Linked DNA regions of Homo sapiens: region 2 is linked to region 1. The links come from fine-mapping of genetic effects on plasma protein levels. A gene starts in region 1. The other region holds a variant in brackets. All regions are shown on one strand. Distances are between the middles of the regions.

Evidence for each region. PIP is the posterior inclusion probability: the model's chance that the variant is causal. The UK Biobank Pharma Proteomics Project read protein levels with antibody pairs (Olink). The fine-mapping took linkage between variants from a reference panel, not from the people measured, so its PIPs are less certain.
Region 2: its variant is fine-mapped to the plasma level of the MSLN protein (UK Biobank, PIP 0.96).

Annotation. Positions count from the first base shown.
Region 1 is chr16:759,244-762,135 of GRCh38, reverse strand. It overlaps MSLN (mesothelin), which reads right to left and starts at 1,402. Exons shown (of 18, transcript NM_005823.6): 1 at 1,315-1,402; 2 at 962-1,063. RefSeq lists enhancers at 1,446-1,464, 1,630-2,155 and promoters at 1,446-1,464, 986-1,466, 972-2,821.
Region 2 is chr16:782,311-785,202 of GRCh38, reverse strand. It overlaps RPUSD1 (RNA pseudouridine synthase domain containing 1), which reads left to right. Exons shown (of 6, transcript NM_058192.3): 6 at 1-229. Among named protein-coding and RNA genes, the nearest start is that of RPUSD1, 4.6 kb to the left of the region's middle. The variant G/T (reference allele first, on the strand shown) is at 1,476.

The sequences.
Region 1 (2,892 bases):
TTGGGCCACTTGGCCTCTCTGAGCCCATTTTCAGGTGCAGTCCAGGTGGGGCGGGGCTGGGCCAGTGAGCAGCCTGGGGAGCCCCTTGTACTCTCTAGGGTGGGGCCTGTGGGCCACTGTGGGGTGGGGAAGTGGGTGGGGAGACCCTCCCTGAACAAGAATTGTCCTCCTGGGGTAGGGGTGGGGCTCGCAGAAGAGGGAACTGGCTTCTACACTCACCCCTTTCAGGGAGGCCACCATGGCGGAGTAGAATAGAGCTGCCTCCTGAAAACCTTGGCCCAGGCCCGGTGGGTCCACCCACAGCTCAGAAATGGGGGTCACACGCTCATGCTCAGCAGCCCCATCCACAGGCAGAGCCTGCCTGGTCGGCCCGGCCACTGGGGAATGTCGCGGGGAGGCACACAGCCTCCGGGTGACAGACTCTACTCCCCCAGGCCCCAGAGGAAGTGGGGAGGCCCCTGAGGCTCTGAACACCTTGAGAAGGTGGAAGAAAACAGACCCCCCCCACAGCCAGAAAATGGGCAGTGAGTGGGACCCCCAGCCCTTGGGGTGCGTGAAGCCAGGAGGGAAACGTGGCCATCGGATCACAGGGGACCTGGGCACTCCCCACCCCAGCTCCATGTGACCCAAGGACCTCAGCACCTGGGATGGGGGCTCCCCGAGAGCCCGGCCCTTCCTGCTCTGAGGGGCCTCTGCAGGCCATGGGGGGCCCTGGAATCTGCATCCTTTACACCTGCAGGAGAGCTGGGCTGGGGCCGTGGAGGCACCTGCACTGCCTTAGGACTGCCGCTTCCAAACAAATGGGTCTGCGTGTGCCCTGCGGGGTGAAATCTGCGTCCAGCTGAAGCCTGACCATCGCTCTGGTGCTGGAAGCCCGGCCTGGGGCGGCCCCAGTTCTCCAGATGGAAGGTGCAGATTCCATCCACACCACAACAGGAAGAGCTCAAAGGTTGTTACTTACAGATCCCAGGGAGGGAGGCACCGTGGGTCCACCGGTAGCTCTCTGTCCGCGCGTCACAGCAGACGGGAGTGGCCGGCCAGGCAGAAAGAGGAGTGCGTGGCGCTGGCAGCGCCCATGAGGAACAGGACAGCCCCTTTCAGATCGCGGGCCAATGCCCACACGTGGGCCTCTAAAGGGCGATGTGAAAGGGGAAGCCCAGCCCCCAGGCCTCTGAGGCCTTCTGCGCAGTTGGGTAGGGAGCTTTACCCCTAACGCCCGGGCAGCCCCCAGCCCTCCAGGTCCCGAGTGGCCCCTCCCAGGTCTCAGTGGGCCCTGCCCAGGGTAACTCTGATGTGCAGGGTGATTGGCCACACCTGAGCCTCCTCTGCCTCGGTTTCCTCAATTGGGAAGTGGGGGTGGAGAGCCTGGCAGCCTCCCGGGCCGTCAAAGGGAACAAATGACGGCTTTGCCCGGGGCAGCAGGGAGTGGTGGCGCCTCACGCCCCAGGAATGTGTGGGTGGAGACCCCGCACAGGAGCCTTGGACAGGCAGCGGGCCAGGCCTGGGGGAGGAGGGATGCCCAGGAAGGCAAAGCTGCCCTCGGTGGGCGAGGGTGGGAGCCCGGGCCCAGGTTTCACGGCTGCCCTGGGTGGGTGTGGGGCATGTGTAGGAGCCCGGGCCCAGGTTTCATGGCTTCCCTGGGTGGGTGTGGGGCGTGGGTGGGAGCCTGGGCCCAGGTTTCACGGGATCCCACTCTGATTCTCAGGTGCTGAAACCCAGGGAGCACTGGCCCCCCCAGTCGCAGGTCAGCAGGCTCTGGATGGTGGCCACGCAGCCCAGACAGGACTCCCGGGAGCACAAGCCTGACCCCCAGTGCAGTGTGGGCCTCGCAAGGCTGTGAGCCGTCCGTCTCAGGGCTGTGGGAGCACACAGGTCAGGGAGGCAGGACGGGGCCCAGCTCCAGGCACACGCACACCCCTTTCTCGCAGGGTCGACTGGAACAGAGCTGCCCCCGGGCGCTCTCTGGCCTGGCGAAGTGGGAGCTGTCTTCCCTACGCATCTGGGCTGGCTGCCTGCTGCTGATGGAAGAGCTGCTCCTCCTGACCTGGGGCCACAGAAGCCCCCTCCCTGCCCCTGAAACCCCTCCCAGCATGTCGTGAGCTCTTATCCCCAGTACGGAATCTGCCTCCGCTATGAACACCTGCAAAGGTTTGTGTGCTGAACGGAGGTGTGCGCGGCGGTCATCTCTGGTCTCTCCACAGAGTGGGTTTTCTATCGTGACTCGCGGTGGAATCGGACCTTCACGCACACAGAATTCAGCAAGGCTGCCAGGTGTAAGCGTCAACTTACAAATGTCAAGAAGGGATTAAGGGCCTTTTAAAAACTCCCTTCCGCAGAGAACAACTGAAAAATTCCAGACACTCTTGTAGCAAACCAGTTACCCAAGGGCTCTGGGGAGGGGACAGAAGGCAGCCGGCTTGGGCGGGAACTCACAGGTAAAGGGAGAGGCCAGCTCCGAGTGGCGTTCCCTTTGTGTCCACACAGCTTTGCTCTGAAGGAGCCGCAGGTTGGCTGCGGGGCTGTGAAGTGGCCCAGGCTGCCACGGACACCCACAACTTTCCCGGCCAAAGGCCAAAGGAAACCAAGGAAGGAGCCCAGAATACTCAGGGCCCAGAGCTCGAGGAGAGGCCTGAGCCGGAGGAGCCAAGGAGGCGCCCACGTGCCCAGCTGAGCCCTGAACTGAAGGAGCCGAGGAGGGTCCAGGAAGAGCTCGGAGGGCCCCGTAGACACGGCTGAGCCCTGAACAGGAGCCTCAGAGGGGCCCATGTGCCCGGCTAAGCTCTGAACCAGCCGACTGCAAGCTGCGGACAATGATGAAAACGCGCTGTGGCCAGCCTGGGCTCACCCTTCAGCCAGCACCGTGGGAGGCCGATGCGGGAGGGTCCGTTGAGG
Region 2 (2,892 bases), 23 kb before region 1:
AGCACCAACCTGCTGCAGTCTCTTGGGCCCCTGCTGGCAGCTCTGCCACGTCACCGCCTGCCTGGCTCCCACACAGCCATGCATTGTCACTCTGCCTCCGGGACCCCAGCTTGGGAGCTGTGGGTCTGCCAGGTCCCACCTCCTCTGTCCCCCATGCCACAACCTGGGCTCCTGGCTACAGCAGGGCTCCAGGGACTCCAAATAAATGTTCAGTGACTGGCTCCAAGGATGACCGTGAACGTGTCCGAAGTGGGGCTTCCAAGGGACAGGTCTGGCCACCCAGACCTTTCCTAGCTCTCTTCCCTGCCCTGAGGCCCCAGCAGGACCCAGGACAGACGCAGTGGTCCAGGCTCCTATCGGCCTCTCCTGCAGACAGCAAGCACCGTGCAGCTTTGGCCTGGGCACAGACCCTGGGCCGGCCCCGGACAACCCCCAGCCCCCACAACCAGAGCCATGGGAATACCCAGCTGGTCCAGCCAGGGATCTTCGTAGAGCCCAAGTCTCAGAGCTCTGTGGAAGGGGCATCTCATGGGCCAGCACTTGGTCTCAGGTCCGCCTGGCCCCTGCCTGCCACTGTCCAGCTCCGGGGCCAGCCCTGAAACCCTGGTTACGACCCCAGCGGTGACAGCAGCAGGGCCTGGACCAGAGGCAGCTGCCACCGTGCCCTCAGCCGAGATGCGGGTTCCAGACCCGGAGTCCCCACCGGGGCCCAGACCGGAGGCAGCTGCCACCGTGTCCTCAGCCGAGACGCGGGTTCCAGACCCGGAGTCCCCACCGGGGCCCGACTGGAGGCAGCTGCCACCGTGCCCTCAGCCGAGACGTGGGTTCCAGCCCCAGAGTCCCTGAGGTGAGGCCACAGGCCCTGGACTCACTGCTGCTGCTCCCATGACTCAGTTTCCTCATCTGTAAAGGAAGGGGCTGGTGCAGATCCGAAGGGACCGCATAACCCTCAAGTAGCACCAGTCGGCCACCCCAACAGAGTGCGGCAGCAAAGCCCTCCCGGCCAGCACGCCCATCACTCTCGAGGCTCCTCCCTGGCCAGCCCCGGGACGTGTCCACCCTCGGGCACCTGGCCCCGGCCTCCCCTCCCCCAGGGCTGGCTTATCTCCAGGCCTCCTCCTGGTCCTTGTCTGAATCAGCCCAAGTCAGGGCCAGGCACGCCTCCCCTCTCTGGCTGGGACAGTCTCCCCACCCTGCCCCACGGGGCCCCACCCCTCTAGACTGGGGGCTGCCGACCTCACTGCCCCAACAGCAGCTGTTGGAGCCGCTGTGTCCAGCTGGGCTGGCCCAGCTGACAGCCGGCCAAGGGGCCTTCAAGGCCTGACCTGAGCCGGACCCTCATCAACAAGCCAGGCCTGAGCGCCGTCCCTCATGGTGCCCGTGCCTCGTTGTCAGCCTAGAGCTCTCAAAGGGGCACCTGGGTTCCTGTGGGCTTGTGCAGGCCTGGGGAGCAGTCACCTACCAGTTCCCCTGCC[G/T]TCAGCCTCCAGAAGACCCAGATCGGGGGTCAAGTCTCAGCTTGGCCATGGAGCTGGCTTGTTGGGCACCCATAGCATAGCTGTGGTGCAGGGGGTGGTGGTTCCACAGCTGAACCTGAGCTGCAGGTCCTGCCAAGCAGGGGCTGAGTCTCTCCCAAGATGAGAGCTGGGGTAGGTGGGCCAGGCCAGGGCTCAGCCTGGGTCACCCAGCACCCTGTCCCAGTGAGGGGAGAAGCCTGGCAGGTGGGCTGGGAAGTCCCTCCTGTGTCTTCTCCTGCCCTGGCCTGCCTGGTGGAGCCCGACAGTGCATACTTGGGTGCTCTTGCCTGCCCACCTCTGAGCTGCGGCACCCACGGAATGGCCGCAGCCGTCACCATTCCTGGCCCCCGCATTGGGTACTCGTCTGCCTGATGTCCCCGCAGAGGCACACATGGTGGATCTGTGTCCGTGCTCCCGGGCACACAGACCAGGAGGCCCGAGAGGCACCTGTGCACACGCAGGCACCAGCAAACACGGCAGACTCAGGTGCAGGCGCACGACATGACCCCTGGGGCACAGACGCTGCAGAGCAGGGCCCCAGTGGGTGGGGAGGGGTGTGAGCTGGGCAGCTGCCAGCCGTGAGCTCAGCCTTTGCTCTAGGGGAAGGGAGTAGGTGCCCATTGTGCCTGAGGTCCCCAGGGGCTGACGCGGTGCATCGCCTGGCACAGCCCGGGCCTCCCCCACAGGACTGCCTGGCGGGCGTCACCGTGGGAGTGGGACTGGGCGGGGCGAGGCAGTCTCATGCCGCCTGCCAGGCCAGGCATGGAGGTGAGCGGGGACCCCGGCATCCCCGCCCTGCACCGCCTCTGCACCCGGGCGCTCAGTGGTAGCGGCTGACGCACTTGGCGGGCTGGGATTGCGTCTGGATCACCTGGTCCACAACTCCCTGCCAGGAGCAGCCACCCCACAGCCTGGGCAGCACCTCCCTCCACCACACCCAGGGTTTCTGCTCAGGTGAGAAACGCTGGCGGGAGCCACCACCAGCCCACCCGCAGGGCCGGTCCCGGACCTGTGGCTGGGCCTGAACCTCTGCATTTGCCTCTGCATGGGGCAGCCTCCCTGTCTCCCTCCTGGGCCACAGTCAGGAGGCCCAGAGGTGCCCAAAAGCCATCAGGCTGGCTCCAGGAGGAGGCAGTGACCCACAGCAGTACCGGACTCCTCTAGGGTCCCTGGCCTTGCAGCTTCCATTTCCAGCATGGTTGAGGCTACCCCAGCTGCCACTGGGGGCTGGATGTCAGCGAAAGAGCCCAACAGCTGGGGCTCAAAGAGGGAAAGGGAGCTGCCAGGGCTGCCGGGTGTGGGGATGAAGCCAGGGCTGCACGAGGCTGCCTGGGGGACTCGCTGTTTGTTGGAAATCTGTTCATTGGAGACCCAGCAG